4 linked regions of the Homo sapiens genome follow. The protein of the gene in region 1 purifies or fractionates together with the protein of each later gene. This does not show direct contact. Each region holds a gene or a part of one and is shown in the gene's direction. Other genes may lie near its edges.

Region 1 (7,578 bases):
TGCTAGTTAGGGGCAGACTTGGAACTACATGAATGCTAAAATGCTGTTCTCCATATTCTAAGTCTCCATATTCTAAATTCAGTGCTCTTCTCAGGATGTCTCATTGTTAGATAAACCAATAAGTTGCCTTTTCCAAATCACTTAACTGGCAGGATTCTTTCTGTCATGGATTTTTTCCGTTTTCTTTTTTAATAACTACTAACTGCAATTCATTCCCCTACTGAAGAATTTTCAGTTTTTTAATATTTCAAACAATGTTTAATGAATATCTTTGTGTATGTCTCCTTGAGCGCATGTGTGGACGCTTTCCTAGAATGTATGTATACCTACCTATAAGTGGAATTGCTGATAATAGGTTGATATGTGTTTTCAACATTACTAGCTACAGCCAAATTACCCTTTTTAATGCTGTAATCATTTACATTCCTGCAAACAGTATGAGTGACAGTGGCTTCACATTCTTGCCCACACTGGGCATCGTAAGATTTTAAAATTTTTGCTAATCTGGTGGATGAGAAATGATATAATTGCTTCTTTTCTTTAAAAAATATTTAACTCTAATTTACATGAAATGAAGTTAACTTTTCATTGTACAATTCCAACTCAGAGAGCTGTGCAACTACCACAATCAAGGTAAAGAACAGTTCCATCACCTATCCATTCACCAGTTGAAGGACATTTGAGTTGTTTTCAGGTTTTTTGTGACTGAATAAAGTGGCTGTAAATCTTTGCAAATAGGTTTTTGTGTAAACCTAAGTTTTTGTTTCTCTTAAGTAGATGGAATATGGTAGGTATAGCCTAATTTTATCTTAAAATTAAAAAAAGACCTATCTGTGGTAGACAGAATAAAGGTCTTCAAAGATATCCTAATCCCTGGAACCTGTGAATATGTTTGCTTAAGTGGCAAAGGCTTATTTAGGTTGCTAATCAGATGACTTTAGGGAGATTATTGTGGATTATTCAGGTGGTCCCAGTGTATCACAGAATCTTTAAAAAAGGAAAGAGAGAGGCAGAAGAGTAGAGTCAGGAAAAAAAGATGTAACAATTGGTCAGAGAAGTGCAAAGTTGCTGGCTTTGAAGATGGAGGAGAGCAGGCCACAAACTAAGGAATATGAGTGGTGTCTAGAATCTTGAAGAGGCTCCAGAAAAGAAAGCAGCCCTGCCAGTAATTTTAGCCAAGGGAGACATATGCCAGATTTCTAACCTATAGGACTGTAAAATAATTTCTGTTGTTTTAAGCCACTAAATTTGTGGCAATTTGTTACATTGGCATAGGAAACTAATACATTGTCAGGCTGGGTTTGAAGTGGCTGAACCACTTTGCATTTCCACCAGCAATATATGAGAGGTCAGTTGCTTTACATTCCTGTCAGCACTTGGTATGGTCAGTCTTTAGATTTAGCCATTTTAGTAGTATCTCGTTGGGATTTTTCTTTGCATTTCCCCCATGACTGAGGATGTTGAGCATCTTTTCATGTGCTTATTTGCCATCTGTTTATCTTTGGTAAAGTGTCTGAAACTTTTGCCCATTTTTAAATTGGATTATTGTCTTATTGCTGAATTTATTATTATCTTATTATTTTTTCCTTTTTTCTTTAGGGATGGGGTCTCACTATGTTTCCCAGGCTGGTCTCAGAACTCCTGGGCTCAAGTGATTCTCCTGCCTCAGCCTCCCAAAGTGGTGGGATAACACGCATGAGCCGCTGCCCCAAAAGTTTTATATAGTCCTTTATCTTTGTCAGATAAGTGATTTACGAAGGTTTTCTTCCACTCTGGCTTGCCTTTTCATCCTCATAACTTCTATACTTCATTACTTTTGAAGTATAGAATTTTATATTTTGAGAAAGTCCAAATTATTAATTTTTAAAATTTGAATATTGTATCTAAGAACTCTTTGCTCAATCCACGGTCAGAGAGATTTTTCTCCAATTTTTTTTTCCAAGTTTTATATTGTAATTTTATTTTTAGATCTATGTTCCATTTTGAGTTTATTTTTGTATAAAATGAGAGAAGTACAAGTTGTTTCACTTATTTGTTTGTCCAGTTCCATGACCATTTGTTTAAAACATGATCTTTTTCCCATTGTATTCCTCTTGTCTCTTTGTCAAAAGCTATTTGACTGCATTTGTTTGGGTTTGTTTATGGACTCTTCAATTGATCTATTTTGTCTATCCTTTTTATTTTTTATTTTTATTTTATTGTATTTATATTTTTATTTTTTATTTAGAGACAGGGTCTCTCTCTGTCCAGGCTGGAGTGCAGTGGTGTGATCTCTGCTCACTGCAGCCTTGGCCTCCCAGGTTCAAGCAATCCTCCCAAGTAGCTGGGACCACAGGCGTGCCACCGCACTTGGCTGATTTTTAAATTTATTTGTAGAGATAAGGTCTTGGCTATGTTGCCCAGACTGTATTATTTAAAAATTTTTTGAGACAGGGTCTCACTCTGTCACCCAGGCTGGAGTACAGTGGTGTGAATATGGCTCACTGCAGCCTCAACCTCCAGGACTCAAGCCATCCTCCCACTTTCCCCAGTGGCTGGTACTATAGGTACATGCCACCATGCCAGGCCGATTTTTAAAATTTTTTGTAGAGACAAGATCTCCCTATATTGCCCAAGCTGGTCTTGAGCAGCTGAGCACAAGGGATCCTTCCACCTCAACCTCCAAAAGTGCTAGGATTACAGGTGTTAGCCACTGAGCCTGGCCTACTATAGGTTTTTTTTTTTTTTTTTTTTGAGATGGAGTCTTGCTCTCTCGCCAGGCTGGAGTGCAGTGGCACGATATCAGCTCACTGCAACTTCCCGCCTCCTGGGTTCAAGTGATTCTCCTGCCTCAGCCTCCCAAGTAGCTGGGATTATAAGCGCGCACCACCACGCCCAGCTAATTTTTGTATTTTTAGTAGAGGCGGGGTTTCACCGTGTTGGCCAGGATGGTCTTGATCTCCTGACCTCGTGATCTGCCTGCCCCGGCTTCCCAAAGTGCTGGGATTACAGGCGTGAGCCACTGCACCCAGCCTACTATAGCTTTAAAATAAGTCTTCACATTAGGTAATGTGACTCTTCCACTGTATTCTTTTTCAAAATTGTTATGACTATTTTTAGTTCCTTTGCTTTCTGTATGATATTTAGAATCATCTTGATAATTTATACATTCTGTTGGGATTTTGATTGAGATTGTGTCTAATTTAGAGATCAACCTGAAGATAATTGACATCTTAATAATTTGAGTCTTCTCATCTATGAACATGCTATTTCTTTCCATTTATGTGAGTATTGTAGTTTTCAATATGCAGATCTTGCAAATACTTTATTAAGTCTATACCTAATTATTTTAATTTTTTGGTCCTATTGTAAATGGTAATCTAAAAAAATCAGATTCCAGTTGATCACTGATGGTATATAGAAATTAATTTTTGTATATTGACTTTGTATCCTGACTTTCTGCTAAACTCCCTTATTAGCTCTAGGAGCTTTTTTATTTTAGTAATTTTTTTTGGAATTTTCTAAGTAGACAGTCGTGCTCAAAACTTTTCTTTCCTTCTAGTCTGTATGCCTTTTATTTCTTTTCCTTAACTTGCTGTATTGTCTTGGTTAGGACTTCCACTGAGATGTCGAATAGGAGAGATGAGAAGTAGCATCTTTATCTTGTTCACTTTTTTTTTTTAAGATAGGGTCTCACTCTATCCCCAGGCTAAAGTGTAGTGGCGCAGCACTGCTCACGGCAGCCTCGACTTTCTGGGCTCAGTTGATTCTCCCATCTCAGCCTCTTGAGTAGCTGGGACCTACTGCAAGTGCCACTATGCCCAGCTAATTTTTTGTATTTTTAGTAGAGACAGGGCTTCACCATGTTGCCCAGGCTGGTCTCAAATTCCTGGGCTCAAGCGATCTGCCCACCTCAGCCTCCCAAAGTGCTGGGATTACAGGCATGAGTCACAGTGCCTGGCTTCTTGCTCACTTTCTTAAAGGAAAAGTATTCAGTCTTTCACTTTTAAAAAATGATATTAGCTGTAGGTCATTTTGTGCATTCTGTTAAGGAGGTTAAGGAGGTTTTCTTCTGTTCCTAGGTTACTGAGGGTTTGTTTTTTAAATCATGAATAGATGTTGAATTTTATCATATGCCTTTTCTGCATGTATTGAGATGATTGTGTGAACTTTTTTCTTTAATCTGTTAATATGGTGAATTACACTGATTTTTCAAATGTTGAACCATATTTGCATGTTTCTGGGACTAACTCTGGGGTTATTTTAAACAAAAATCATTTTGGATTTTTAAAAACTAATATACATTAACATTTATTCTTAAAAATGAAGGAGCAATGTCACATGCCTGTAGCCCCAGCCAATTGGGAGGCTGAGGTGGGAGGGTCGCTTGAGCCCAGGAGTTTGAGTCCAGCTGAGCAACATAACAAGATCTCTTTTCTTAAAAAAAAAAGGAAACCAAATATAAGATTTTGTGAACTAAAATACTTAATGAAGTCAGTAGAGTCAAGGTATTCATTAACAGTTACCTACCTACATTTTACATTTTAGTAGGACTTAAATTTTCTTGATTATGATATAACATTATAAAAATTAAAACATTTGGCTTTCTGTCTCATATAATTTTATAGTTTCTTCTTCAGTTAATAGTCTCAAACACCCTCAAAGACGTTGAAATTTTGAGGCCTCCAGGGTTCTTGGCATTTTGCTTCTTTAAGGCAGGGGTCAACAACTTTCGGTAAGTATTTTAGCTTCGTGGGCCATATTGTCTCTGTTGCAAGTACTCAGTTCTGTTGTTAGAGTGGCAGAGGTAGCCAAACAAATGAGCATGACTTTTCCAATAAAACTTTACTTATAAAAATAAGGTGTGCCTGATTTGACCTCTGGACTTAGTTTACATACCAACATTTTTATTTTATTTTTTTGAGATAGAGATGGGGTCTCACTGTGTTGCTCAGGCTGGTCTCGAACTCCATGACCCAAGTGATCCTCCCAAGTTGGCCTCCTAAAGTGCTGGGATTACAGGCATGAGCCACCACGCCTGGCCTACATACCAATTTTTTTTTTTGAGACCAAGTCTCACTCTGTCCCCCAGGCTGGAGTGCAATGGCATGATCTCAGCTCACTGCAACCTCTGCCTCCCGGGTTCAAGTTATTTTCCCTCCTCAGCCTCCCGAGTAGCTGGGATTACAGGCACCCGCCATCATGCCTGGCTAATTTTTGTATTTTTGTGGAGATGGGGCTTCACCATATTGGCCAGGCTGGTCTTGAACTCCTGACCTCAGGTGATTTGCACGTCTCGGCCTCCCAAAGTGCTGGGATTACAGGCGTGGGCCACCATGCTTGGCCTCATACCAATGTTTTAAGGCAAAAAATCAGCAGGAGAAATGACAGTAATTGTAGTAATGTAGTAAAAGGAAGCTTGGGGTATTTATTTCATGCTGTAATTCTAGGCCAAGCCTCACTTTTCTCACCTATGACATGTAGCCACCTTGAAAGATGATTGAAAAATTCAAGCTGAGATATGGAAAGCACCTAGCAAAATATCTGACACATAGCAGATACTTAATAAATATTCACTTATTCACTTTTTGTTTCAAGACTGCACAGTGCTTTGTCACAAACCAACAGATGTGAAATAATTAAGGAGAGTCAGGTTTTTACAGTTTGTAGTATATCTAATAAGTTCAAATATTAGAAATTTTAATTATGTGTCTATAGTTATCTTTTGAGTTATGCTTTTTTGATATAAATCATAATTGGCTTCACAATTTGAGAAACTTCACACAAAAAGTTGAGGATTTTGTGTGAAAACATTATATTTTGAGAGTTTTACATTGTCACAGAAAAGGTTTGAGAATGTAACTTAAAATACATTATTTTGTTTTGATGTAAGAAGTAGGCAATCTGTATTTTGCTTGTGTGTTTTAGAAGTGCCTTTAAGACTGCATTCGTTTAACGTGATTGCTTCCTATGAATGTAGTGAGCTAGGTGCTCTGCTAGGACTTGGTTGTACTTAGAGTATCCATATTTAGATACTCATTTTTGTGTTATGTTTGAAATGTAAGTAACGCTTCGGAAAGTCTTTTTTTCTGAGTTTCTATCAAGATAAAGCTGTTCTATTTTGTTTTTTATGAAGCTGGTTGAGATTCACTAGAGCGATTTTATGGCACACAAATGGGTCACATCCTACAACTTGAAAACCATTGATGTAGATAGACGAAAGTAACCCTTCTCCAAGAGGCTGTGTTCATAATTTCATTTAAAATTCAGCCACCCACTCTTCCTTCCTCCAGGAACGTTCCATACCCTCCTACTGGCAATAAGTTTTAGTTCTTAAAATTTTAGTAAAGTATGCATTAACAATTTATTCTTTTTTGTAACTCATCTGTAAATTATCGAGAGCTGTGACTACTGTTTGATGTTCATTTATGCTCAGAAGTACTAGACACTCAAATATTTACTGACCAAAAAAATCTGGAAGAAAATAAGTTATGTGTTAAACAGTGGTTCTTCTGTCTTAGTATTGGAAATCACATTGCCTCACATTGAAAACTGTATAAACTCCAGTTTATGTGTACTGGACATGCAGATTTAACTGTCTAATATTAAACAAAAAATTCTAGTTAAACAGATTGTTTTGTGATTCTGATAGTCATCTGGGCCCTTCCTCTGAAACACACACACTGTTCATACAATATGCAGGGATTCATGGAAATAAAGTCATGAACCCCAGATACAGGTCTCTGATCCAGGTGATTCATCGACTGTATAAATGACCTGCAAATGTTTTTCACAATAATGATTTGCATAAGGGTAATCAGTACATACTTAGAGTTAACGAAAATAAATTTCATAGTTTTTGTAGGCATCCTAAAGGAATCTTATCCTTCTGTTTTTTATACCTTATCCTTTTATACTTAAAATTTATAGCAAGATTGATAGTTCATTTGACCAAATCACAATACTTTCTGCTTTCCCCTCTTATCCAGAATTGTATCCCTCGCTGTGTCTCTTAATGTGTTATGCTGTATGCTGTATCCTTTGTATGTATTTCTTAAATATTAACAACTACATTTCAAGTTCTTTGTCAGCATTCTTCTTTTTACAAATGAGGAAATTGAGGCTCAGAGAGATTAAATATTTTTTCCATAGTCCTATTATAAGTGATAGAAAGGAGTTGAATTAATTTTATTTGATCCCAAAGCCCTTGGCTTTTCTGCTTTGTCTGTAATATAGCCTGCCTTAAGACTTATTTTAACATTGTCTTTTTGGTAAGATTAGAAACTTTTTGATGAAAGCCATTTTCCACTTTACCTAGTGTTTAAAAATGTACGTGAGGCTGGCGCAGTGGCTCATGCCTGAAATCCCAGTATTTTGGAGGCCGAGGCAGGAGGACCGCTTGAGCCCAGGAGTTTGAGACCAACCTGGGCAACACAGTGGGACCCTGTCTCTACAAAAAATACGAAAATTAGCTGGACTTGGTGGTGTGTGCCTGTGGTCCCAGCTACTCAGGAGGCTAAAGTGAGAGGATTTCTTGAGTGTGGGAGGTTGAGGCTGCAGTGAACCATGATGGCACCATTGCACTTCAGCCTGGTCAAC
Region 2 (7,578 bases), on another chromosome or scaffold:
GGTCAGCTTATCTCACTGGGAGGTAGAGAAGTGACTGTAATTCCTATTCCGCCAAAAATGAGAAGACCCCAGTATTTTTGCAATTTATTTGTGACCTCAAGAATAAAATGGGCTCATGCAGATTAAGTAACTTGCACCAAGTTACACAGCTCGTGAGCAGTAGAAGAGGTCTCCAGACTCCCTCTGTTGGGATCCAGATCCCATGCACTTAGCCATCTGTCTTCCCTGGATTGAGAAATATCAACTGTAGAACAAGTGTCCACAGGACATGGGAGCATATGAGGTTAATTGGGCATGAGCTAGGGCATGAACAAGCTTTTTGTCTTCAGTGCACACTGACAGATACTATTCCTGGTAGTGGTGATGGTGGAAGTGATCCATCCACATACTAATTGTTTCCCTTAATGGCTAATAGTCATTAGGTATGAATTATTTATACTTAGGTGTTAGCATTTTGTACCTGGTAATTAGGTACAAAAATGGGAGAGCCACATTAAACAATGTACCAAAGGTCTCTTTCTGGAACTTTCTATGAGCAATAGGTTGGAAATCTAAGTATCAGTGCACAGAAATCAATGCATTATGGCAGTAGAAAAAGCCAGAAAATGGGAATTGGGAAAGAAGGATTCTATCTTGGCACCACCACTCTAATATTTGGCAGATGACTTCCCCTTTCTGGACCTCATTCCCCATCTGTCCAGTGATAGAGTTGAACTAAATAATTTTCTTTTAAGGCCTTTCCAGTTCTTACATTTTGCGATTCATTACATCAAAAATAGTATGTTAGCATTGCTTGTAACCCTCTTCAAGTCTTTTTATGGTTACTGCTAATGGGAATCATTAAATCGTTAACAACTGGAAGCAACAATAATCATTTAGTGTCTCTAATATAAGTATCTACCAATCCTTGAATAGTTTTTTTTCTTTTTTTTTGTGAATGTATGAATTACTAAAGGGAGTTGCAGATAGCAAGATGGGGGTGGTTTTTATGGCTGTTTGTTGTTTCCATCCTGGCAAATGGAACATAGTTTCTAAACTAGGATCTTTATGTGTGCTGGACCACGTGTATAATGTCAGAAAAGGTTTAATTTAAAATAATGAGATGAAAATTACCTTGTAGAAGAATCGTTTGAAATGTTTAGACTTGAGCAAACGGGTGTACAGGTGTGTATCACTACGATTTTCACAAAGTGACCATGGAAGTTGTCTGGTTCTGACCCTCATGGGATCACACCTCTGTTTGTCAGGCAGAGGCACAGAAGGTCAGGCTGGAAAAGGGCTGTGGTCTTTGCAGAGATAGAGCAGGCAGGGTTAGACTTCCCCATAGTCAGACCCTGCCTGCTCTTCATTTTGCAGGTGTCCTGGGGGCATCAGAAGCCTCCTCATCTCACTTTTGTGTGCCCTTCTCCCCCAGTGCCTTAGGAGAGAAATTAACCCGCACCTGCCCTTCATGTTTTACAGGCCAGCGCAGGACATCTCATTGCCATTGTCAGCCAGGAACTCGCAGCCTCACAGCCCTACTTCTTCTCTGACCTCTGGGGGGTCCTTGCCCTTGCTACAATCTCCACCATCCACTAGATTGTCTCCTGCCCGACACCCCTTGGTCCCAAACCAGGGAGACCATTCAGCTCACCTGCCTAGGCCGCAGCAGCATTTCCTTCCTAATCAGGCTCACCAGGGGGATCATTACCGTCTCTCCCAACCTGGCCTGAGTCAGCAGCAGCAGCAACAGCAGCAGCAGCACCATCATCACCATCACCACCAACAACAGCAGCAGCAGCAGCCACAGCAGCAGCCAGGAGAAGCCTATTCAGCTATGCCTCGGGCTCAGCCATCCTCTGCTTCTTATCAGCCAGTGCCAGCAGACCCTTTTGCCATTGTTTCCAGAGCCCAGCAGATGGTTGAGATCCTCTCAGACGAGAACCGGAACTTGAGGCAAGAGTTGGAAGGATGCTATGAGAAGGTGGCAAGACTGCAGAAGGTGAGGCTTCCGTTTTGGGATATTAGGGTCTCTAAGTCTTTATTTGTGAGACTTGTTTAATATCCACATTAAAGTCTCCAGTTGTGAATCCCAGCATTACTTGTGGCAGGTCTTCAGGATTTTTATATCTGAAGGTTAGATATGAGTCAAACTTTGGAAAAAGCCTTCTACCTGTCTACCTAGGAGAAGTAACGTCTTACATTTACACAAGGAGAAAAAAATTTATGCAGTTTTTCCAGACGCTATAGCCCTAAAGAAAACGTGATTAATTCTTTTAGAATTCCAAAAGGCAGTGATACTTCTTGATAAGAATACTGGTGATGCCTTTATAGGTAAAGGATCTGACGGCACCTTAAGGCTCATTGTCTTGGTCACATTTTCCCAAATATGAATTTGAATCTTAAATATAAAAATAAATGTAGTTCCTAGAAAAATCTCACCAGCTAAAGTTTGAGCAGTCCTGCCTTGTTCTGGAAAAGGCTCAGAATACTTTTTCCTAGTGGGAGTTCTCATAGTAACTCTCTTTCAACAATCCCTCCACCCCACCCTTTGATTTGGTCCCTCCCTGCAGCTCAAATTCAACATCTGCTCTCTTTCTCTGTTGTATGTGGGGGGCAGGAGGGGCTTAACACCACAGCTGGGTGACAGGTGACAGCCCTAGGCTGAGGAAATAGAAAAAGGAGTGTATCTCCAGTTCACATTCTTCTCTGCCCACCCCCATTGGGACTTTACCTCTGGAGTACCCCAAGCGAGGAACCTTAGCTCTTGGCTTCCAGGGGCTGCTGGTGAATAGGGTTATGCCTTTGGCCGCTTCTTTGCAGCTTTTGTCATTGTGGAGCTATTGTGGTTTGGTCTCCCTACAATGTGAACTGTTCAGAGAGGTGAGGGTGAAGGTGGGGGAGGGACAGGAGGATGCCTTGTATTGTCCAGCAACTCTGTCCTTAGGAAACACCAGGAGTGAAAATTTCAGAGGCCTGAATGAAGCTGAGTATTTGTAAACAGACACCAAATCTGGGGGCCTCAAGGAGACAGGGGCTTATTATCAGCAGATGATTTTTTTTCTTTCTTTCTTTTTTTTTTTTTTTGAGACGGAGTCTCGCTCTTGTTACCTAGCCTGCAGTGCAATGGCACGATCTCCACTCACTGCAACTTCCGCCTCCTGGGTTCAAGCAGTTCTCCTGCCTCAGCCTCCTGAGTAGCTGGGATTACAGGCATGTGTCACCACGCCTGGCTAATTTTGTATTTTTAGTAGAGACGGGGTTTCTCCATGTTGGCCAGGCTGGTCTCGAACTCCCGACCTCAGGTGATCCGCCCGCCTTGGTCTCCCAAAGTGCTGGGATTATAGGCGTGAGCCACTGCGCCTGGCAAACAGAGGATTTTTATATAGGAAAATGGCTTCCCTGTCCCTTAGTTTTCCTAAATCTGGATGAGGGTTGTTGGAGTGCTCTGAGAATTGTTTCTTCCCGGCTTTTCCCTGATTTTGTATTTTCACCCGCAAATTTTAACTATATCCCTATCCCCATCGCTTTGGTGAAATAAATTAATTATATCCATACACTAGAAACCCAGTCTGGCTGATTAGGCTAACAGTTGACACCCCCTCTCCAAACTCTCTCTTCATGGTGATCCCAGCCCATCTTTGATACAATCACTGAAGGATGAACCCAGCTCTAATACGGGCCCTTTTTGCCAGAGGATCCATGGTGATTTTTTGTGTGTGTGGGAGTGGGTTCAGCCAGTGACAGGGAAGAGGGACAGAGAATAGGATTGCTGTTGTTTGTTCCCCAAGATGGGAAAAGATGCCTCAAATAAGTGTAACTGGAACAGCTTGAATGTTGGGAAAGTAGAGGCTGACCCAGTGTCGAGGTAGAGTAGAGGGGAAGGTGGACCAGGAGAGGAAAAGGAAAGTGGGGAAAATTAAGGTAGATCCCAGGTAGTGCTGGAGGAAATGAAAAGGCCTGAGGCTCATGAGGGGAATAAGTAGACAGAGTAAGTCTGGAAAACCCACTGCCACCCTCCTCTCTGCCCCCACCATCACCCAGCCCAAACCAGTGGATATATCCTTCTGTGATGGCTTTTCCTGGAAGGCCCTATTGAGAGCTGTGGGACTTGCCCTTTTGAAGGATGGAGTATCTACACAGGGGGTAGGGGAAGGATTAGTACAAGATCTTGAAATAGCAGTCTGCACACCTTGAGGAAAGGGACTACCTTCTAGGTGTTGCATTCTGTGCACAACCGGACAGCCTTGAACTATAAATGCTGCCCAGAGCAGACCAACACCAAGCCTGCTCTTTCAGATGGAAATGTTTATTTTCTCTCCCCAGCGCTTGAGTTTCATGCAAAAGCTTCATCAGGCGCAGGCCTTGCAGATCTTGTCTCTAAATGCCATTCACCAGTTTTCACCTTCTGTGCTGCTATCTTGGTGCCATCTGTGAAGAGAAAAACACTTTTGAGTCTGCTCTTTTCTGTGGCATAAGCCTTATTTGTTTGCAGGCAGTCCTGTCTCTGGCAGAATTTTGGAGATGGAGGCGGGTTGAATCTGACTGGTTTGGCAACCTTACCTTTCCCCTAGTGTCCCATTAGGGGCCTGATATTTCTTCCCTGAAAGTACCCTGAGCTTTGTTAAACAGGATAGTGGAAAACACAGAAGCAATGCAGAATGGTTGCAGAGTCCAATTTAATCTGAAAATTGCTTAATAGACCGTGGGTTTATTTGTCTTATACAAATTATATGCAAATATCTGTGTGGCTATTATATGTGCAATGGAGCTATACTAGTTACAGAAAAACTCTGGAGTCTAATTTCTCATTTTCGGCCTGATTGTGGCTGATTCAGGGGAAGACCCTTTCTCTCTGAGTTTATTTTCCCCATTTTATGAGATTTGCAGGGGTGTCATAAAACACAACTCTGATTATGATTTTGTGTTCAAAAACCTATACTGGTTTCCCATTGACTATGGGATAAAGTCCAAATGCCTGGCATTAAAAGCATTTTATGATCTGACTCCAATCTATCTTAGCAGCCATATCTCGCCAGGTTCCCTCTGCGTACCCCACAGTGTCCAGCCAAATTAAACGACTGGTCATTCTGGGAATGCATTTGCTTACTCAGAATAGAATACCCTTCCCCTCACCTCTGCTCATTGAAATCTGACCCAGCTTTCAGGATCTGACTGTAAATGCCACCTCTTCTCAGAAATTGTTCTCCTCCCCACTTCCCCAACCAGGAATAACTTCTTCCTTGTCTGTACTTTATGGCACTACTTCTACTTTTCTTAAAGATGTATCTTGCCCTATAGTCTTTCATTCGATTGGATTGAAACCTCCCTGAGGGCAGTGAGAATGTTCTCATTCATATTTACACACCCCCAATAGTACTTTAAAGAGTTCGTGTAAATATTTGGCCCTTGGTAAATGTTTGTTAAATTGAACTGAACTACTTCATGAAGCTTGGGGTTTTTAGGGTTGGTCTCTGCTGCTGACAGTTGATCTTCAGAGGCAATTTGACTTTTCTCTCTACTAAAATGAGAAGAGGTATCCTGTCTAGGCAGATAATCAGTGCAGACTGGAACCAACATGTGAAAGCCCTTTGAATGCTTTGGAATATCTACATACTATATATATTATTACTAATATTTTCAAAATTAAGAGTTTTCTTCAGAAATTAAAATCCTTTATAACTATTTATAAAATTTATTCTATCTTACCATCTCCTCTGAAGGCAGAAATTGTCTATTTTTTTAACCCGAGGAAAGACCATGACACCATGAGTTAATTACTAAGCTTATGGTTGAAGGTGGAGATCCTTTCTTGAAACTTGTGTCATCTGACTGTGTTATGCTTGCCTCCTGGCCATCTGTGAGCCCTGGGAGAAGCTGTCAGCGAGGATTTGCCTGTTTGTTTTCAGACCATTTTCCCCATCACCCTCCTACCATCACCACCATTGTCTTTTTTTGTTGTTAAGGTGGAGACAGAAATCCAGCGCGTCTCGGAGGCATATGAGAACCTCGTGAAGTCATCCTCCAAAAGAGAGGCCCTAGAGAAAGCCATGAGAAACAAGCTAGAGGGCGAGATTCGGAGGATGCATGATTTCAACAGGGATCTGAGAGGTGAGGGAACCAACAGACTTGTCTTTGTACTTCTGAAGCAGCTGCAGGGTGGTGAAGGGAAGGGCTGAGCAGGATCCAACTAGGCTCTTTGGGGTTGTCCAACCCACCGGTATGGGCAGTAAATGGCTGGGCATGTGCCAGGCTAATTTTTTGTGACTGCAATAGTCCTCAGTCCCAAGCTTGATTGATCAAAGTGTGGATGTACCTCACTGGTCTTCTGAGCAATGAGCTGATGTGTTAATCAGGCAGGATCCCTGCTGGGACTCCTGGACCCACCTGGCCCACCCCCACAATAGGTGCTGCCTCTTCTTTTTAACAGGTTTTACAGAGGCGTGCCCTTTGACTGCAAGCTTGAAGTATAATGTCCTCTCTTATTTCCAGGACTGACTGACTCCTTTTATTTTTGACTTTCACCTGATAATATTGAAGACTTTGGGAAATATTTCTACTTTAAAGTGCCTTCAGCACCTTCAAAACTGCTAACCTTGGGGATGGTACTTTCTTTTTTTTTTCCTTTTTCTTTTCTTTTTTTTTTCTTTGAGTTGGAGTCTTGCACTGTCGCCCAGGCTGGAGAGCACTGGCATAATCTCGGCTCACTGCAACCTCCACCTCCCAGGTTCAAGTGATTCTCCTGCCTCAGCCTCCTGAGTAGCTGGCTGGGATTACCAGCGTGCGCCACCATGCCTGGCTAATTTTTGTATTTGTAGAGATGGGGTTTTGCCACGTTGGCCATGCTGGTCTTAAACTCCTGACCTCAGGTGATCCACCCACCGTGGCCTCCCAAAGTGCTGGGATTACAGGCATGAGTCACTGTGCCCGGCCAGGGATGTTACTATCTTTGAATTTTGGTTATTTTATCTTTAAAGTCAGGGGGCCCAAATACATGCTGCTAGTTGTCCCTTTCAACTTTGACATTACATGAGTTTAAATACTTTATAATAACTGTGATACTCTTTTTTTTCTGGTTAATGAAAGATATCTTTATATATTTGGGGATGGATAATTTCATTGAAATTTAGAATTCTGCACTTAACTTAGGTTTTGGCAGTGAGGAGTGAAAGCATTAAATACTTACCTCCTCCTCCCCGGCCATGGTCTAGTATTATTTTGGGATTCACATTTGCAAACTCATGTTAGTCACCCATTCCTGTTTAACAAGAAGAAACAGGCTTGTTTTACCAAAGGTCAGTATTTAGAGGGCCAATAGTATGTGCATGAAAGTTTACATTTGAGACCCTGTTGATTGTCTCCAAATTTCACAGAGCGTCTAGAGACTGCCAACAAGCAGCTTGCAGAGAAGGAATATGAGGGGTCAGAGGACACCAGAAAAACCATCTCGCAGCTCTTTGCAAAAAGTAAGTCTGCAAGCTGCAGAAACAGGTATTAACGTGTGGATGGGAGCAAGGTGCGTGAAAAGATTACACTGTTCTCTTTAGCCTTTTAGAACAGCCAGGGCAGAGTCAATATCACCTAAGGATTGTTTTTCCT
Region 3 (7,578 bases), on another chromosome or scaffold:
AATACTATTGTTCACAACACAAACTGGTGACTGTAAGTTCTTTCATATACATCCATTTTTCTATCATGAAAACTATTTTATAAAGGAGAAAACAGGCATATGGAAGTTAAGATACTTGTTCAGTGTCACACTAGCCAACTTAGACTGGAACTCAGATCTTTGGGGTCTGAATGCAGAATTTTTTCTGCTTGTATAGAGTTGTGGATGTGTGTGAGTTCTTAAGTTAAAATTGGACTGATAACATCTTTATCTTCTACATACAAAGATATAGTTGGGTTTTTTTCATCCTGTTCATTGTAGATGGCTTTTAAGAACATTTGGGCAGTTCAAATTTGTTGCTCTCATTAAAATTTGTGTAATTTGTTATGATTTCTTTATTGATGGCATTTTATCATGGTTGGAATAAATGACGAGGGCTTGATTTTTCTTGAGTTTGACCTAGAAAAAAAATTAATTACTTAAAACCTAGTAAAAAATACATATTCTTTGTGTTGTGTTTATACTTAGAACATTTTAGAACTTGGAAAAGCACCCATAACTGCACTGACCTCTTAAAAATTAGGTTTTAAAATTCACTATTATTTTTGGAATGTTTTATTCATTCAGTACTAGTTGCCCTTACATGTCTAGTGTGGACCAGGGGAAATTCATTAGATGGACTGCTCATCAATACAATTACAAACATTTATAAAATTTATATTAAAATTATATAATATTAAAAGTATCCATTTGAAAACCTGTGTTCTCCAGTGTCGAATATTAAATGTTGAAATTTTCCTTTGGTACTTAGATATTCGGCTGCAATTAAGCGCTGACTGGGAAATTTAAAGGGACTCAGTTGTGTTTTTTCTTTTTTAATTTTTCATCTTAATATTCCCTAATAGGCCAGTACTGATGCAGGCACTGCAGGAGCCCTGACTCCACAGCATGTTCGAGCTCATTCCTCTCCAGCTTCTCTGCAGTTGGGAGCTGTTTCTCCTGGGACACTGACCCCCACTGGAGTAGTCTCTGGCCCAGCAGCTACACCCACAGCTCAGCATCTTCGACAGTCTTCTTTTGAGATACCTGATGATGTACCTCTGCCAGCAGGTTGGGAGATGGCAAAGACATCTTCTGGTCAGAGATACTTCTTAAAGTAAGTGAAAATAATGGTGGGAGACAGTTATCTAAGACAAATATGTATTGGAAAACACAGTAAAGTGGTGTCAAGATACAGAATATCATTTATTTTTATGTTTTATTTAATATTTATGTTAAGCTCTGTAGCTCTATCTTCCATATATATGTTTCAGTTTGGTATGACCTAAATACCTTTGTTAGTATGGGTAATATTTTGAAAGCTTTACTGAGTCTTGGTTCTGAGCCTCTTTATAATCTTTTCTTTTGTGGAAGTTTGGTTATTCTCATTTTGAGCTTGTGCCAAACCTTTTAATTAGCCTAGCACAAAACAGAAAGAATACCATGAAAATTTTCAAATTCTGGGAATTACAGGGCTAGCAGCGTCTTACAAAATACGTATGGTGCTACTTGTATCTTTTTAAATAAATATTTTATTGGTAGAGAACTACAAAATAAGTAGGGCTTTTGGGGGAGTCTAATTTTACAGTATTTTAAATTGTGAAATGACAAGCACTACAACTGAAGCTTGATGTGACTTACCAATATTTCCCCCCAAAAATGTAAAGGGAAATAAAAATTTTTAGGTTTCATATGCAGTCGCTCAGTGGCAAACTTCTTTCAAGCTAGTAGGTCTTCACAACAGAAACCCTCCTCTCTGGGAAAACAAAAACATGACCGTTGGGTTGTTTATTTATTTTTATTTTTTCAGTCCTTTTGTGTTTAATAAAATGGCAGAATTACACTAGGCTGAAAAGACATAAATAGAATTTTCTCTCCTCTGATTTTGAAATTACAGATAAGACCTCAATTTTTTTCTGGCTTGTTTGGATCAAGTATATATTGAAATGTTGACTAAAACTAATTATGATAGACTGAAATTGATGTCTTTAAAAAAGCTCACTTAATAGTGTTTAATCAGGTTGAGATAATAAAGTGAAAAACAGTGTAAGTTTTGATTCGGATAGGTCTTGACAGTCTACTCCTAAGGCAAATGTAACATTTATTTATCATACCAGATAACACCATTAAGGATGTTTTGTTGTGTGAATCCTAGTATGTGTTTTATATTGATTGTCTTCCAGGGTGGGTTGCTACTTTGTAATGTAAGATAGAAAGTTTTGTGACAGACTTACAGAAGAGCAAAGGAAAAGGTTTGATCATGAAAAGTTCGTACAGTTTTTTTTTGCCCCCTTTCCTGCAACTTTTTCTTTTCTTTTCTTCTTTTTTTTTAAAAAAATTCATTTTCTGGTGTCCTGGTATCCATTTCAAAGGATCAGGTTTCAACCAGAACAGTAAAGGGCCTGAGACTGGAAAGTACACACAAGTCTGGCAAACTCATCTGCATGAGCAAGATCATTTGTTCTCAAGCAGACATCCAAAGTAAATGATTGAAAGAGCTGCTAGCTGTGAAGGATGTGTCTTGAAGGGGAAGGGAGTGGAAACAAACCAGGTTGTTAGGAAGAAAAAGAAAGGCTGCACTTTTTTGAACCTCTCCCTGCTGGGTCACATGCTGACCTGGGGAGATTGTTAAACAGCTTAATAGCCTGCTTTCCTTCTTTCTTTGGTTGATGCTGTGGCTAAAAGTATAAGGTTAAAGAGCAACATTTATGCTCTTCTTCTTAGTTCTTTGTATCTTGTAATAATTGCTTGTAGGTGATACCTGCCTACGATTTCATTATTTTGAATGAATGATCTTTTTTTGAGCTGAAATCAGTATTCTAGATACAGTTGGCCTTCCGTATCTGTGGGTTCAGCATTCATGGATTCAACCAACCTCTGATTGAAAATATTTGGAAACAAATTACATCTGTATTGACTAATGTACAAACTTTTTTCCTTGTCATTATTTCCTAAATAATGTAACAACTATTTAGCCTTTACGTTGTATTAAGTATTATAAGTAATCTAGAGGTGATATAAAGTATATGGGAGAATATGTATAGGTTATATGCAAATATTATGCCACCTTATATGAAAGACCAGAGCCTCTGTGGATTTTAGTACATGTAGGAGGTCCTGGAACCAATCCTTGACCACAGATGCTAAGGAATGACTATTCATTTTTCAAAGTTTCCAGTGATTCTTCCTTTGTGAAGAAATGTTTCTCTTAAAGGTATTGATATATGTAGATGGATTAATGAAGGGTATATACCTTCCAACCCCAGTCACCTCAATTCACCCCTGTCAACTATGGGCCTGTAAGGAAGATAAACCAGGCTAAAATAAATAAATCTCAAATTATGTCATAGGAGAAAAGGTTGCAAGGGTAGAGAGATATTTACCCGGAAAAGAAAAAACTGGGAGGAGGAGAGATAAGACATGATTGTTGTTTCAGTGTTTCTGGGGAACTTTTATGTGGGAGTAGGATTAGTCTTACTATATAAGAAATGTGAGGAATTTTGATTCCATGGAAGAATTTTCTTATATAAAACTTTTAAGAACTAGAAGAGTTTTCCTGGACAGGTAAATCTTGCTCAATAAATGTAGGTAAAATCATGGTTACTTGGTATCTGTCAGGGATTCTATGGAGGCCCCTAAACATTGGATGTGGGAGAAGAATGCTGTGGGCTTATAAAATTTTGTATTTTAAAGAGTATCTGCTTTATGAACATTATGCAATTTGGAGAAAAGTTATGAAATAAGATTATTTCACCTTCTCCAGTTAGCTACTTCCATGATGTTATGGACCGTATAGTTGTTACAACTTCTTTTTGTGTACTGAACAGACAAATGAGATTAATATCCTAACCATTAGTCAAAGATGATGATAAACTAAGCTTTTGGTGCCAAGTTTCTGTTGTCAAAGTTCATTTTTATCCTAGTTTTGATGTTTTAAAATAGGGCTGTCTTTGTAATCAATATTTATATACTTTCCTCTTGTATCTAAAGAGGAGTGTTGTTGTCATCAGATGTAGAATGAAGATTTAAATTAGTTGCCTTACACTTGTTTCCGCAATGAAACATTTTATTTTAATGCATCTTTTTAGATATTTGTTGGAACTGACTTTTAAGTTACAAAGTCTATAACTTATTGAGATTTATATTTGGCATGAAGAACCTGACTATAAATGGTCCAGACAGGCAAGACGATGTAATTTGAGAAAAAACTTAGAAATGTTAAGAAACAACCCAGTTGTTGGCCTTGTGACCATAGATGATTGAGTTTTTGAAGTTAGTTGGCCTATCATCTAGTTTCCAGGCAGCATGATTACTGAAAGATTATAAGCAGGCAATCATTCGTTGTTTTAAAGCCCTCCTTAGGTCAGTGAGATCTTGTGGAGGAGACTCATACCTTACTTTGGCAAGTGATACGGTGGAAGTATGGTGCTAGTTACATTTATCAGTGGCTTGTTTTCAAGCTCTGGGATGAATGTGAAGTATGTAAACAAGGCTTAGCCATATAATATTTGTTCTACTACATTTACTATTCAAAACTATTTTCTTTACCATCGTATTGAGCTTTCATTTTAAAAGAATTCATTCTCTTTATGACTCTGAGAGTTATTACCTTCTTCAGCTGTCTTACGGTTTTCCTACAGGAAATAGTTCTTCAAGTAGTTGGTCAACAACTTCCTATTTCTTTATAAGCTGCTGAATAACTTCCTGACTCAGTATTCTATAATATCTCTGGTTTCAAGGAGTGTTTTACTTGCAAGTTTATTTTATTGACTCTGATGCCTTATAACTATTACCATGTTCAAAGATATGTGTTCTTATATATAATGTACCATGTAGGACCTTATAATTTGATTTAAGGAATCTGGATCAGTGATTTTAAAAGTTTGTACATTTGCATTGTTTTAATAATGTTCTAATAATTTTTAAAGCACAGTTTTGTTTCATTTCCATTGTTTATCATTTTCTGAATAACTGGCCACAATGTTTTTAGTCTGCGAAGATTCAAGGTTTTTTGTGGCTGTGATTTGATTAAGTTATATTGAGTAGCTTGGTATACAATTTAAAAAGGATATGTTTTTCAGAGATTTTTGACATTGCATGGCATAAAACTACCCATATTCCTATATTAATTTGCCTTGTAGATGTGATTGATCGCTATACATAGGCTGATTCTTTTTTCTTTCTTTCCTTTTTTTTTTTTTTTTGAGACAGAGTCTTGCTCTGTTGACCAGGCTGGAGTGCAGTGGCACGATCTCAACTCACTGCAACCTCTGCCTCCTGGGTTCGCGTGATTCTCCTGCCCCATCTCTACAAAAATACAAAAATTAGCCGGGTGTGTTGGCGCACACCTATTGTCCCAGCTAATCAGGAGACTGAGGCAGGAGAATTGCTTGAACCTGGCAGGTGGAGGCTGCAGTGAGTTGAGATTGCACCACTCCACACCAGCCTGGGCGACAGAGCCAGACTCTATCTCAAAAAAAAAAAAGACTATGAACATATACAGTGTATGTTGTTATCATATACAGTGTACCTGGTATTTATACATTGTATACAGAACATATACAGTGTATCTTCATAATAAAGATTATGCCTCTTTAAAAGGAAGTTTCATGAAGAATAAGGCTATACTGTTTCTTTCTGTATCAAGTATAACCCAGAGTTTCCCTTTAAAACTGAAAAGCTTGTAATTTTGCCATTAAATGTTAAGTTGCACACGTGCACATGTATACACAAACAAAAAACCAGTTCAAATTGCAATCACGAAGTATTTCCCTATTTGAGGGAAGGCCAGTCTCTGCTTGTTTGTCTTGCTATTGAGGCTGAGTGGAGAGAGAAGATGAAAGTACGCCCTTAGCTCTGGGGGGTGGGGGAGAGCTTACTTCTGCTCAGTGGGTGGGCATCCCAGGGAAGAATGGCACACAGTGCCACAGTGATTTAGGGAGAGAACCCTGGAGAAACTGTATTCACCAGTGGCAGAAGAAAAACAGTTGGAAGATAGTAGATGTGACAGAGTAAATAGAACATAGAGATTAACATATTCCCTGGGAAAAATAATGGAATTTTTTTAGTGTGAACTAAGAAAGAAGTTCACTAGAACTTCTTTGCATTATTTAATTAATTTGCAGCATCATTCAAAGAACAGACTGTCACTTGGTGTGTTTAAAAATTATGATTCTTAGTTCTAGAAAGAATTCTAGAACTATCTCTGGAAGTTTAAATGTAGCAGACTCAATTGACTGCAAGGTGGTAGGCTAATTTTCTTTTTAAAGTCACATTTAAAAAAAAATACCCTTTCCTAAAGCTTTATCTTAGCCATTAAAAAAAAACCCAAACATCTAGATAGCATTTAAATAGTTGAAACTTGGAAAAAAAAAAAACCCAGGTTTTTACAACCCTAAAATAAGTCCTCTTTAGTTATGTAGAGAAATATTTTACTTTGTAGTTAGAAAAATAATGTGAATTCACAGCTTAAAATACTCAGGGTATCATGACTCTGCATTGCCTTGTACCTTAAGGCTTTGAGGGGAGGTAAACTCTAAACTGTTTTATTGCCAAAATATATATAGAAATTTAAGCTTAGGACCAATCAAAGTGAAGTCATTTTAAAAATCAGTTGCTAAGATTTAAGATTATTCAAACTTAATGCTACCCTCTGTAATAGCATAATTTAGCCATTAATTGTGGCTTGAAAGTTTTTAATAATAGCTGAGTAGCATTGTATAAAGGGAGGTCTTAAAGAGCTGTGTCGTTCTATAACTGTGGTTACTAGGTGATGCACTTCTTACAAAAAGGGCTTCTGATTCTAGGATTAATCAGAACTACAAGCCATGAAAGGGACATTGCCGTTTCTATGAAGAAGAATTGCTTCATGGTTCTGGTTGCTCAAGTGCTGTAGCACCAAGTTTCCTGGGAACAAGTACTGCCACCGTGGAAGCACTTTTATTTACGTAGGGCTTGACCCCTTCTAAATGCAAACAAAGAAGTTTGGTTTAAATCACAGCAGTCCTCCCCACCTCCCCTTTAATATTCTAGACAAGGAAAATGGTCAGTATTTAATCCTCATTTTGCTCCTAGCATGAGAAGAATCATAATTTTTAAACACACCAACCAAGTGATAGTCTGTTGTTTCTTTGAATGATGTTGCAAATTAATAAAATAGTGCAAATGGCAGTATCTATTATTTGGGTTTTCTTCTACCAGATATTTTCAGTGCTTTATTTGTGGTTAGTGCCATTACTTCATGTGCTGTCACTTTAATTTGTCTCTCTATCTCTTTATGGGATGTTAGTCACTCGACTATCAAGTTCTTCAGCAGGATTCTCAGTTGGGGGTGGGTGAGGGGACATTTTATTAAAAGCTCCTTCCTTTGTCTTCTTCCAATTGATTGCTTAACCTAAAGGGAGAGGAGTTCTGTTTGTTTTTAAAGTAAGGTATTTATTTGGCCAGTAAGTATGTTTAGAGAGTTGATACTTGCATGAAAATTGCTGCAGATTTGATTTGGGATTTGGAGTAAAGATAGTGTGCTTGTTAAAGTGTTACTGTGTGCTTTGACAAAATGGA
Region 4 (7,578 bases), on another chromosome or scaffold:
CTCTTGCTCATTTACTAACAACTTCCATAAATTATACAGAATGTTTATCTGTATATAAAAATTGCCAGATATTTATGTTTTCTTTTGTTTATTTTATATTCTATAAACCAAGGATGAGAATCAAGATCTTTTCATTAAACATTTGTGGCATGACTGCTATGAACAGACCTATCAAGGCAAATAAGATACACTCGTATTCCTCAAAGAGATTATAGTTCAGAAAGCCATTTTAATAAACAATTACAGCATAATCAAAGGTGCCTTTCTGCTTTTTCTTATGAGTATAAATTTGCCAATTTATAAATAAGACTTTTGTATGGTGGTATAATTAAATAATAGTTTTTAAATATGTGATCTCTATAACCTCTGCTTTTACATTTATGTAGACCTCAAGGTCAGGGATGAAGCAGGAGGAGTCATTGACCTTCCTCAAACCTTTAACAAATTAGGAAATGACAATTGATATTAAATACTTTTATACAGTTCTCATTTTGTAATATTTTACTTGTTCTGCTCTCACTCACTTTACTCTTAGAATGCCTGTATACCTACTCTTTCATAATATCAGAGCTTCTCTTTTACCATGAATCTCTTACAGACAGACTCTCTATTCTCGGGATGCGATTTGTTCATTCTGGCTTACCATAGCATAAGTCCAAATATTTTTTCCTATGCAAACATACCATAGCCATTAGGTCTTGGTGTGTGGGATCCTCAGGCTGTCACAAATTTCATTATGCCATCTGCTTCAACCTGAGCTGCGTGTCTTCTGCTGGCAAACTTTATTGAAGTTGCCATGGCTCAGGATAAAAAAAAAATCAATCTTGGCATAAGAAGCTTACTTTTGAAAAAATAATAATTGATCATGCCTGCTATAGATTTTAAAATAAACATTTAAAAGGATTCCCAAAAGTCTCTTCTCAACACATTGATCTCTTTTTCATCTGTGATTGTAGAAAGCTAATATAATGGTTAAGTTATTGGTAACTTTGGTAACTTAATGAGTTTTCTGTTTTATTTTTAAGGATAGGTAACAAACTCTTATGTATAGATTTTGGTGACATATTGTGAAATATTTTGATAGCTTCTGTCAGTGGATGTTCTTTACCTAATGTTTTATTTTAAATGATATCTCAAATGTTTTGTGGATAATACAAGGACTGTATGTTTTCTGTATAATACAAGGATGATAGGAACACCGTGATGAAAAAAAATCTAGGTCACAAACAACTTAGCTGTGTGACTTTACGTAATTTCATCATCCTTAGCATTGAGATGATACTTGAAAGGTTGTTCAGGAGATTGGATCAGAGTTAGATCCTTAAAAAATAGATAAACATTTTTTTTCTGCCAATGTATGTTGAACAACTCTGTATAAGGCATTCTTCTAGAGAACGAGGGCATAGTAAAAATAAAATAGTCAAAAATTTCCACTGGAGAGTTTTTGCATTCTAGTCGGTCTCCACTGACTGGGATGAAAGCTTCATGACAGCAGGGTGTGGATCAGGTGGTAATGAGTGCCATGAATTAAAACAGGGCACAGTAAGTTCGTGGAGTATAATGGTGCTGTCTTAGATAGGAATGCGAAGGAGGACTTTTCTGTGGTGAGATTAGGCACACCTGAATGAAATAAGGAAGCATGTGGATATTTGGGGAAGAATATACCTGTTTGGTAGAGTGAACAGCTTGGCACTTTGAGGCACAGTGAGGAGGGGAGCACAGCTAGGGCTAAGTGGGTGAGGGACAGACTGCTAGGAGATGAGGTCAGAGAGTGACTCAAAAACATCAATGAAGTAAGCTTTCTGATAAGTAGTTACAGATAAAAAGTCACAATCCAGGCACCCAACATAAATATGAAATTAGGATTGACTGCATTGCTTTATTATTATTTAGATTTAACTTCAAACTCTTTTAAAAGGCACACACAAATAATTATAGAATCATTTCCCAAAGTGGGATGATCTTTTCCGTTGTTGTTACGTGTGTCATTGTACTTGGAGTTAGCCAGACAGCACGATTTGAGGGCACAGTCCTCCAGACTGCCAGTGCTGCCCCACACTTCTGATACCAACTGTGGCGAGTTAGGGTCCAGCTACAAAGTTAAAGGTATAAGGATACACAAAACCACCCTCACTTATGATGTCAGCTGCAAATTTGCGAGGTTCCCCTAGCCACCTTGAGGTTTCATAATTCACTAGAAGGTCTTAGAGAGTCTCTGAAATCTGTTAAACTCATGGTTATGATCTATGGTAGGGAAAGGATGCAGTCAAGAGTCAGCCAAAGGAAGAGATGCGTAGTGCAGATTATGGGAGGATTCCAAACTGGAAGCTTCCATTTTGCTGGGAAAGTATAACTCTCCCAGAATCGATGTGTGACAATATGTATAGAGTACAGCCATGTGTCATTAGGTGATTTCATCCTTGTGCAAACATCGTAGGGTATACTTACCCAAACCTTGGTGATATAGCCTACCACACAGCTAGGCTATTTGGTATTGCTCCTAGTCTACCAACCTGTACAGCATGTTACTATATGGAGTACTGTATGCAGTTGTAGCACAATGGTAATTGTCTGTGTTTCTAAATATAGAAAAGGTACAGTAAAAATGTGGTTAAAAGGTAAAAAATGGTACACCTGTATAGGAGACACGTACCATGAATGGAGCCTGCAGGACTGGAAGTTACTATAGGTGAATCAGTGAGTGAGTGGTGAGTGCATGTGAAGGCCTACGACATTACTGTACACTACTAGATAGTCAATATACTGTATGCTACTAGATAGCCAATATAATGGTTGAGTTATTGGTAACTTTGGTAACAATGAGTTTTCTGTTTTATTTTTAAGGACAGGTAAAAAACTCTTATGCATAGAGTTTATACATAAGTTATAAATACTGTACACCTAGGCTATAGTAAATTTACAAAAACTTCCTTCAATAATAAATTAACCTTAGCTTACTGTAACTTTTTTTTCCTTTATAAAGTCTTAATTTTTTTTTAAACTTTTGACTCTCATAATAGCACTTAGCTTAAAGCACAAACACATGTATAGCTGTGTTTGACTGTGTTGCAAACCCAGGAAGATTACCTGATCTTGGTGTTCAGCATTTTTTATTGGCGTGTTATTTCATAGGTGTGATTGATTGCCCTGCCTATATGATTAAAATTCAGCTCCGAGTTTGGGCTTATATCATGTGGCCTTGGGGCCCACCATGAAGAAGAAAGATACCTCATCACTCAGGAAATTCTGAGAGGGGAAATTCTGAGAGTTTAGAGGTTACTTCATAGGATCTGGGGACAGAAAAATATATGTGTGGATGTATATATTTATGGGTGTGTTTTAATGAGTACCCTGAAGTTGAACCCTGGCGGTAGTTTTTGAATTTTCCCATCTAATAAATGGTGCTGCATTGAACATTTAGTGATGCACACACATCTTTGTGTATTATCCTAATGTTCATCCTTGAAATAAATTTCCCAAAATAGAATTGCTGGATTAAAGGATTTGGACATTTTGAAATTTCATTTGTATGTCCTTGTACCCTTGGGATATTTTCTATGAAATAGTTTATGGAATGTCAAAATTCTTAATAATCCCTGCATTACTCTTAGGTAAATATTGCAACTTCAGCAACTTCAAATATTGAATATGCCCACGTTCCTCATCTCAGCCCAGCTGTGATTCCTACTCTGCAAAATGAATCGTTTTTATTATCCCCAAACAATGGGAATCTGGAAGCACTTACAGGACCTGGTATTCCACACATTAATGGGAAACCTGCTTGTGATGAATTTGATCAGCTTATCAAAAATATGGCCCAGGTAAGAACATTTCTTTCTGTTAGTTATTGTAATACCTGTAGTAATTTAAGAATGTGATCAAGTTATGGATAATTTGAAGAATATAGTGACATTTATAACATCTGAAAACATTGGAACAAAAAGTCAGTTTTGTGGGAGTTTAGATGGTTCAGACGTTTTCTATTACAGTTTTATCATCATTTAAATTTGAGTATTATATGTTGTATTATAGAAATATTCTTCAGGATAAAGTGCTAACAATTACCTTGGAAAAATGTTATTCAATTTCTTTTTTTTTTAACAAAGAAATGATTCTGATAAGATGACTGTTACTGCAGTAATTGGCTTTTAAGTTTTTTTTTGAGACATGCCTTGCTCTGTCACCCACACTGGAGTGCAGTGTTGTGATCATAGCTCACTACAGTCCCAAATTCCTGGGCTCAAGGGATTCTCCTGCCTCAGTCTCCTGAGTATCTGGGACTATAGATGTGTGCCACCACACTTACTAAGTTTTATTTTATTTTTTATAGAGATGGGGTCACATTATGTAGCCCAGTCTGGTCCCTAACTCCTGGCTTCAAGTGATCCTCCCACCTTGGCCTCCCAAAGTGCTGGGATTACAGGCGTGAACCACCATGCATGGCCTGGCTTTTAGTTTTATTTCTTGCTTTGTTTCCTAAACAGGGTCGCCATGTAGAAGTTTTTGAGCTCCTCAAACCTCCATCTGGAGGCCTTGGGTTTAGTGTTGTGGGACTAAGAAGTGAAAACAGAGGAGAGCTGGGAATATTTGTTCAAGAGATACAAGAGGGCAGTGTGGCCCATAGGTGAGATGGTCGCGGCGTCTTCTTTGTTTTTGATCCCACATTCTGAAGGTTTTGGTTACTATGCAGGAATTTAGAAAAATAATAATGAATGGCAACAAAAAATTGAACATAATCTGTTATTAACCAGTTTTTAGAAGTCATTAACATTGTTGTGATAAAATAGCAGGTTCTTTGAAATGAGAGTAGCTTTTAGATATAGTCATAACTTAAGTTTTGGTAAGGAAAGAAAAATTTGAGGATAACATTATTTTCATTGTTAATTAAATGGGCTCTTTTTGATTAGATTTTTAAAATTACCATGCTAGAAATGACCCATAATAATTCGAGCTGCATTTTTTTTATGTACCCAGAGCAATAATTTAATATAGTTGCCCCTCAGTATCCATGGGGAATTGGTTCCAGGACTCCTGCAGGTACTAAAATCTGCAGGTGCTCAAGTCCCTTATATAAAGTGGTATAGTATTTGTATATAGCCTGTGCACATTCTCCCATATATTTTAAATCATCTTTAACTTATAATGCCTAACACAGTGCAAATCCTATGTAAACATTAGTAGTCATATTGTATTTTTAAAATTTGTGTGATTTTTTTATTGTTGTGGCATTATTTTTTTTGAGTATATTTGATCCCCAGTTGGGGATCTAATCTATGGATGTGATCCCCAGTTGGGGATCTAATCTATGGATGTGATCCCCAGTTGGGGATCTAATCTATGGATGTGATCCCCAGTTGGGGATCTAATCTATGGATGTGATCCCCAGTTGGGGATCTAATCTATGGATGTGGAACCCATGGATACACAAGGCCAACTGTATAGATATATCCACTTTCATTTTTAGAAGATGAGAATATCCAAGATGTAATGTAGGCTGAGTAGGTAGCTGAAATAAAGAGTACTTTTATATGGGAGGGGTTCAGTAGGAGTAGCAGTGAAATAACCTTACGAGAGTTGATGACCTGCAGCCAAGGCGTGTATTTTTTTTAAAGTAGAACTGCAGGAAAAAGCTTAGAGTGTGGGAATTAAAAATAGGATTAAAAATGACTTGAACATACATGCCAAAGAAGCTGTCATTTCCTTGAGAACTCTCAGATTGTCTTTTATCCCCTTTTGCATCCTTGATAGAGATGGAAGATTGAAAGAAACTGATCAAATTCTTGCTATCAATGGACAGGCTCTTGATCAGACAATTACACATCAGCAGGCTATCAGCATCCTGCAGAAAGCCAAAGATACTGTCCAGCTAGTTATTGCCAGAGGCTCATTGCCTCAGCTTGTCAGCCCCATAGTTTCCCGTTCTCCATCTGCAGCCAGCACAATTTCAGCTCACTCTAATCCGGTGAGTACCTAAAATTTTCAAAAGGAACAGAACGTATTTTTCAAGTTGTTTTTGGTTATCTCCAAGTTTCTAATTTGTGTAGGGTCTTTGCACTTCTTGAGTTTTTGTCTGACTATTCTTTTATTTTTCCCCAGCCTGGAATATTTGTTCTTTAAGCATGATAAAGCTTCTAAGTTCTAAAACAACAATTACTTTTCTTTGTGTAGTTTTGTCCTTTGACAGCATTCCTTAAAAATGAAAAATGTAGTCCTTTAACAAAATTGACTTTATCTGTAGACAGATACAAGCTTGATTTTGCTTTAAAAATTATACAATTATATTGTTAGAGTTAGCTGTCAGTAACTTTTAAGAAGTCATCTAATTTGGAATCCTGCCTCAAGGCAGGATTATGCAGAAGACATTCTTAACATGTGACCTTTTTTTTTCTTTGAACTTTTTCTTTTTTTTTAAAGAAGTTCTACAAAAGATCTTGCAAATCAATGCCTGTCTTTAACTGTTGAAGTGAAATCATTATGATGATATATTGATAATTTCAAGAATGATTCTGTCAATGGCACTTACATTCTGTTGAAAGGGAAGTATACCAAATGAAAGGGACATTGTTAGGACTCATTATTATGTCTGAATTTAATTATTTAATATTAACAAAATAATCGCAAAAATTTCTACTGTAATGTAAAATGGTAGTGCTTTGTAAATTTCTACAAATTCATATATGAGCTTTGTTTGTAGGTTCACTGGCAACACATGGAAACGATTGAATTGGTGAATGATGGATCTGGTTTGGGATTTGGCATCATAGGAGGAAAAGCAACTGGTGTGATAGTAAAAACCATTCTGCCTGGAGGAGTAGCTGATCAGGTAGGCTACATCAATAGATCTTTTATGCTATTTTATCAAATAATATGGGTACATCTTTTACATTTTTTTGTTGGAAAGAAGAAACTTTGGCCTTAAATGATGCCAAAGAAATTGAGTTAGAATCTTTCGTTTTATTGAGTGTCCCTAAAATGTTGTCTTAGACCTAGGGGAGGAATACCTTTGAAAAGGGACAGTAATCTTAAGTTATAGTTTTAGACAATGAGTTTAACACTTTTGAACCTCAGACTAAAGCCAAGGTTATGGATTTGATAATTGTGGAGGTAGCTACTATTTGTTTTATAGTCATAATTCGTATTTATATACCTAGTCAGCTGTTTTATAGTCACAGGGTATTGTGGGAAAATATACTTTTGTATTCAGGCAGAAAAACAACATTCACCTTGTTCCTTTAGTGATGGGTCATTGGTATCATCTTTGTGTATGAAACACAGCCTGTTTTTTATCACTTGAGTAGTTTATTGAGGCATTACCATTTATGATATGTGACATTGTTGCAATATATGTGAGAAAAGATTTAACACATTTGTTATGATTTATATCTTAATTTGATAAGGCTTACTGGTTTAAGTAAGTTTTGCCTTGATTATAACTTTTTAAAAAATAAAGTGGTTGTTTATACATGTGTGTTTGAACTTAAAGTAGGAAGTCCAGCTCATCAAATATTCCCTGTATTCATAAATGAAATTCCTGTTTAATGGCAACCTTGTCAGTAGGGGTGTTAACGGTAATATAAT

What was found.
Region 2: the proteins of PALS1 (region 1) and AMOT purify together in Homo sapiens (affinity purification with mass spectrometry; 7 studies listed by BioGRID and IntAct, with this or other methods). This does not show direct contact.
Region 3: the proteins of PALS1 (region 1) and YAP1 purify together in Homo sapiens (affinity purification with mass spectrometry; 7 studies listed by BioGRID and IntAct, with this or other methods). This does not show direct contact.
Region 4: the proteins of PALS1 (region 1) and MPDZ purify together in Homo sapiens (affinity purification with mass spectrometry; 3 studies listed by BioGRID and IntAct, with this or other methods). This does not show direct contact.

What each region holds. Positions count from the first base shown.
Region 1 is NC_000014.9:67,243,937-67,251,514, forward strand, and holds part of PALS1 (protein PALS1), read left to right. Parts: intron 1-7,578. UniProt on the Homo sapiens protein: Plays a role in tight junction biogenesis and in the establishment of cell polarity in epithelial cells.
Region 2 is NC_000023.11:112,809,761-112,817,338, reverse strand, and holds part of AMOT (angiomotin), read left to right. Parts: intron 1-1,461; coding exon 1,462-1,981; intron 1,982-5,945; coding exon 5,946-6,090; intron 6,091-7,352; coding exon 7,353-7,445; intron 7,446-7,578.
Region 3 is NC_000011.10:102,113,260-102,120,837, forward strand, and holds part of YAP1 (transcriptional coactivator YAP1), read left to right. Parts: intron 1-884; coding exon 885-1,135; intron 1,136-7,578. UniProt on the Homo sapiens protein: Transcriptional regulator with dual roles as a coactivator and corepressor. Critical downstream regulatory target in the Hippo signaling pathway, crucial for organ size control and tumor suppression by restricting proliferation and promoting apoptosis.
Region 4 is NC_000009.12:13,220,617-13,228,194, reverse strand, and holds part of MPDZ (multiple PDZ domain protein), read left to right. Parts: intron 1-3,611; coding exon 3,612-3,821; intron 3,822-4,484; coding exon 4,485-4,624; intron 4,625-5,748; coding exon 5,749-5,962; intron 5,963-6,694; coding exon 6,695-6,823; intron 6,824-7,578. UniProt on the Homo sapiens protein: Member of the NMDAR signaling complex that may play a role in control of AMPAR potentiation and synaptic plasticity in excitatory synapses. Promotes clustering of HT2RC at the cell surface.